2 separate regions of the Homo sapiens genome follow, and region 1 is linked to region 2. Evidence: fine-mapped expression QTL. Tissue or cell type: whole blood. Region 2 holds a variant in brackets; the other region holds the start of a gene. All regions are shown on one strand. Distances are from middle to middle.

The links. PIP is the estimated chance that this variant, and not a neighbour inherited with it, causes the effect.
Region 1: it holds the start of LRRC56, and the variant in region 2 is fine-mapped to the expression of LRRC56 in whole blood (INTERVAL, PIP above 0.99).

The regions. Positions count from the first base shown.
Region 1 is chr11:536,150-538,649 of GRCh38, reverse strand. LRRC56 (leucine rich repeat containing 56) reads right to left here and starts at 1,123. Exons shown (of 14, transcript NM_198075.4): 1 at 1,045-1,123; 2 at 1-52. RefSeq lists an enhancer at 2,415-2,500.
Region 2 is chr11:427,085-429,833 of GRCh38, reverse strand. It overlaps ANO9 (anoctamin 9), which reads left to right. Exons shown (of 23, transcript NM_001012302.3): 10 at 16-76; 11 at 182-264; 12 at 1,008-1,112; 13 at 1,195-1,359; 14 at 1,440-1,476; 15 at 1,635-1,746. Among named protein-coding and RNA genes, the nearest start is that of SIGIRR, 13 kb to the right of the region's middle. RefSeq lists an enhancer at 89-1,288. The variant A/G (reference allele first, on the strand shown) is at 1,345.

The sequences.
Region 1 (2,500 bases), 110 kb before region 2:
GCATCCTCTCCATCCCGTCTAGAGCTGCCCCTGTGCCAGGCGAGTTGGCCGGCTGTTGACAGAGGTGGTGGGTGGGAGTGTTGGAGCGGGGCAGTGGCTCAGGCTCTGGGTGCCTCACTGGCCTGGTCTGGAAGGTGACCATGCACCAAGGATCAAAGAAGTGAAGCCCAAAGCAGAATCTCATGGAGTTTCCAGCCCAAATCTCCCCCACTGCCTGCCTTTCTCCAGCCAGTGCAAGGCCCCAGGCCTCACAGCAGGACCCCAACACTGCATCCCCCCAAAGACTCTGGCCACCTCCATCCCAGGCCTGCCAGCCTCGAGCCTCATGGAGGGCGTGAGCTGGCGGGGTCACGGGCAGCCCCTGGACACCTATGGGTGACACTAAGGGCTGAGTCAGCTACCCTTGTCTCCTCTGTGCCCAAGAGCCCCAAGCATCAGACTGGTCTGAGCCCCAAGGCCTGGGGGTGCAAGGGGTTGGAGGCTGTGGGATCCAAAGACCCCATTGAACTCCCACCTCAGACACTGCACCTAGTGTTCTCACCCAGGCCTGAACCCATCCACACACTTCACGGCCCTGCTCCCACCCTGTGTCCCCTCTGCAAGCCCCCATGCTCCCCAAATTGGTAACTGGGGGGCCTGTCTCCACACCCCTGCTAGTGCCATTCCCTGGTGGGTAGCCATCACCTCTGGGTCCCCTGCTGCCCTCGCCCCTTCACCATGGGGGCTCGGAAGGCAGAGCCCGCTCCCCTCCTGAGCCCCACCCTGGAACCCTGAGCACCCTGGGTCATTGCCTCTGAGTCTCCCTCAGGGGCAGGGCTTGGGGCCCCTCCTGTCTCCTGACAGGGAGCCCTTTCAGTGCAGGGCCAGGGGGTGGTGGAGGCAAGGGTCCTCAGGGGACCAGATCTGACATGCGGGGCCATCACTGGGTCCCCGATGGCTGTGCTGCTTCGTCCCCGCGCCCACGCCTCGGCGCAGGTTCCCTCCTGGCACCGGTCATAGGGCGAGGCTTGCGGCTCCCACCCCAAGGGTGCGCTCGGCTCTCACCTGAGGGCTCAGCCTAGGTGTCCGGCCCTGGCAGCTCGGCCCTGGGCGCCCTCCACCTCCAGGCGCTGTCTCCTACTCCAGGCTGTTCTTCCGGCCGCCGCGGGGTTGCGGCCTGGGCGCCATAGCAACGGGAGCCAGGCCTCATTTGAATACGCAAATATTTATAAGTCGCCGGGGGCTCGGGTTCCGTGCGGCTGAGCCACGCCCCTTAGCAACGGTCGCTAGGGCGGGGCCACGTGGACTGGCACGTGCGTGGGCGCCCCTGCTGCGGGCGATCCCAGGGGAAGGTGACGCGCCACCAACTCGAGTTGGGTGGGCGCAGGCGCGTCAGGTGCCAGCTTCCTGCGGCTCCGTGCCTGGGCCGTCGCGATGCACGTGTCGCGTTTCCTCGCGATCCTGGCGCTTCCCACGCGGGGCGGGTAAAGGCGGTCTCTGCTGGAGGCTCGCGCCCACCTTTCCCAGGTGGAAGGGTCGCCCCTGGGGCCGAGGCCTGCCGTCCTGACCTTCGGTTGGAAGTGAGGCCGACGGCAAAAGGAAGCACCGGGGGAAGCGCCCCCGAGGACCAGGAAACACACACCGGACGCCGGAGCGCACCCGAGTGCCCGGCCCGCGGGACACGCTGCCGCCCGCCGTCCAGTCGCCGCTTCTCACTCGCGTTCATGCGTGTCCGCCCCGAGCCGAGCTCTGACTGCGACCGCGCGGTGGACGGACGGCAGGCGGGACCCCCGGGACCGCACGTGGGTGGAGCCCCGGGTCAGCAGCGACCGGCGCAGGAGGGCGAGGCGGGCGCTGGACTGGGCAGAGGCAGGGTTTGCCTGACTGTAAAACGCCTTTTTTGTTTTGAGACGAAGTAGCGCTCTGTTGCCCAGTGCAGTGGCGCGATTTCGGCTCACCGCAACATCCGCCTCCCGGGTTCCAGCGATTCTCCTGCCTCAGCCTCCCGAGTAGCTGGGACTACAGGCGCGCGCCACTGCAGCCGACTAATTTTTTGTGTTTTTAGTAGAGACAGGGTTTCATCATGTTGGCCAGGCTGGTCTTGAACTCCTGACCTCAAGTAATCCACCCGCTTAGGCCTCCCGAAGTGCTGGGATTATAGGCGTGAGCCACCGCGCCCGGCCCTTTTTGTTTTTTAATGAGGATGTATTTCTGATTCCTTTGCAATTTTAAAAAATGTTAAAAACATGTCTTTTTGGGTTTGAAAGAGCTAGGATGTGCGTCTATGTGCTTGGGGTGAGCCCTGGGCACTTCGCTCCCCTGTGGCAACTTGTGGGTACGGTTTAACTGGACCACGCTGAGCTTCTGCAGCGTTGGAACCTCAAGTTTGGGGGGACTGGGCGGGCAGGGTCGCCTGCCACGCAGGCCCGAGAAAGAGGAGAGTGGTGGAGGGGGCGTTCTCACGCCTGGCCCCAGGGCACACGGCTGCGCCCGCCGCCCGGAACCCCACCGGGGCTGCAAG
Region 2 (2,749 bases):
CTATCACCCCCCCAGCTCACCCACCTCTTTGACAATGATGGCACGGTGGTGTTCGCCATCTTCATGGCTCTCTGGGGTGAGTTGCTGCGGGACGCCTCTGCGGGGCCAGGGGAAGTGCCAGCCCAAGCTCCGAGGTCCACCTGGCGTAGTGCAGTGATGCCCCTCCTTGCCCCCGCCGCAGCCACGGTGTTCCTGGAGATCTGGAAGCGGCAGCGCGCCCGCGTGGTCCTGCACTGGGACCTGTACGTGTGGGACGAGGAACAGGTGAGGTGGAGCTGGCAGCGCAGCTGAGGCCGACCCGAGCAGGGGCTGTTGGCGCCCGATGCCCTGCACGGCCCACATATGCCTGCCGTGTCTGAGGTGTGTGTCCCGAGTCTGTCTCCCCACATGTGGGGCGTGTGTCCTGGTCTGTCCACCTGTGAGGCGTGTCCCTGTGTCTGTCTCCCCACGTGTGGGGTGAGTGTCCCGTGTCTGTCCACCCGTGAGGCGTGTCGCTGTGTCTGTCTCCCCACGTGTGGGGTGCGTGTCCCATGTCTGTCTCCCCATGTGTGGGGTGAGTGTCCCGTGTCTGTCCACCCGTGAGGTGTGTCCCTGTGTCTGTCTCCCCACGTGTGGGGTGAGTGTCCCGTGTCTGTCCACCCGTGAGGCGTGTCCCTGTGTCTGTCTCCCCACGTGTGGGGTGAGTGTCCCGTGTCTGTCCACCCATGAGGCATGTCCCTGTGTCTGTCTCCCCACGTGTGGGATGAGTGTCCCGTGTCTGTCCACCCGTGAGGCGTGTCCCTGTGTCTGTCTCCCCACGTGTGGTGTGAGTGTCCCGTGTCTGTCCACCCGTGAGGCGTGTCCCTGTGTCTGTCTCCCCACGTGTGGGGTGCGTGTCCCGTGTCTGTCTCCCCATGTGTGGGGTGAGTGTCCCGTGTCTGTCCACCCGTGAGGTGTGTCTCTGTGTCTGTCTCCCCACATGTGGGGTGAGTGTCCCTTGTCTGAGGCTTGCCCGGTGCTCTCCCCAGGAGGAAATGGCACTTCAGCTCATTAACTGCCCCGACTACAAGCTCCGGCCATACCAGCACTCCTACCTACGCAGCACCGTCATCCTCGTCCTGACCCTGCTCATGGTACGCAGGGGACACCGCGGTGGGGCTGGAGACCCGGGCTGCATGCCCTCCCCGGCCCCCGCCCACCACAGCTGTCCCGCAGATCTGCCTCATGATCGGCATGGCCCACGTCCTGGTGGTCTACCGCGTCCTGGCCTCCGCGCTCTTCAGCAGCTCGGCCGTGCCCTTCCTGGAGGAGCAGGTGACCACGGCCGTGGTGGTGACCGGGGCTCTGGTGCACTATGTGACCATC[A/G]TCATCATGACCAAGGTGGGGCCGGGAGCAGGGCAGGCCCGAGCTGGGGGGTCCACCGGAGCCCCAGTGAGCCCATTCGGTGCCCTCCTCCGCAGATCAACAGGTGCGTGGCCCTGAAGCTTTGTGACTTCGGTGAGAGGACTACCCCAGACCCTCTTGGGGGACCCGGCGGGAGGACTCAGGGCTGGGGCCTTGGGGCTGTGGTCAGAGAGCAGGGGAGGGGACCCTTCCTGCTGCCCCAGGGCCTCTCCTATGAGCAGGGAGAGAGGTGAGGGCCGGTCCCATTCCAGAGATGCCCAGGACCTTCTCGGAGCGAGAGAGCAGGTTCACCATCCGCTTCTTCACACTGCAGTTCTTCACCCATTTCTCGTCTCTCATCTACATCGCCTTCATCCTGGGCAGGTAGGGCCGGCGCCAGGCTCCCTCCAACCCAACTCACGAGGGCTTGTTCCACTGCCTTTAAAGTGGCAATGTCCATTCTTTTAATTTTAAAAGTAATTTCTGCTGAGAGCAAGTGGAAATCCAATCTAGAGACATGTGAGCAAAGCCTGCAGTGAGCCCAGCTCCTGAATCCCGGGCCCCGAGGTAGCATCAAGACAGTCTGGTGGCCTCCCAGGCTTTTTCATGCATTTGCAGGCGCATAACAGCACTGGCAGAAATGGCTTTGTCCTGGGAATAACTGCACCTGCTCTTTATGCTGAAAATGCACTTGGTGTCTTCCTGGGTCTGCCTGCCCACACATCCTCGTATACATGTATATATGAGAGAGAGAGAGAGAGAGACAGAGACAGGGTCTTGCTGTCGCCAGGCTGGTGTCCAGTGGCACAATGTTGGCTCACTGCAGTCTTGACCTCCTGGGTCTCCTGAGTAGCTGGGATTACAGGCGTGCACCACCACACCCAGCTAATTTTAATATTTTTTGTAGAAATGGGGTCTCACCGTGTTACCCAGGCTGGTTTCGAATTCCTGGGCTCGAGCGATCCTCCTGCCTCAGTTTCCCAAAGTGTTAGGATTTCAGGCGTGAGCCACTGCACCTGGCCAAAAAAAGGTGCATATGGATTGATGGAGCCAGAAAGACTCATTTCACTAATTAGGAAGGCGAGGTGAGAGGGATGCTGGCTGCAGCTTTACTTTTTTTTTGAGATGGAGTCTCGCTCTGTCGCCCAGGCTGGAGTGCAGTAGCATGATCTTGGCTCGCTACAACCTCTGCTTCCTGGGTTCAAGCAATTCTCCTGCCTCAGCCTCCTGAGTGGCTGGGACCACAGGTGCGCACCACCACACCCAGCTAATTTTTGTATTTTTTGTAGAGAAAGGGTTTCACCATGTTGGCCAGGCTGGTCTCGAGCTCCTGACCTCAGGTGAGCCACCACGTCTGGCCCTGTAGATGCTGGTTCTTGACCCCCAT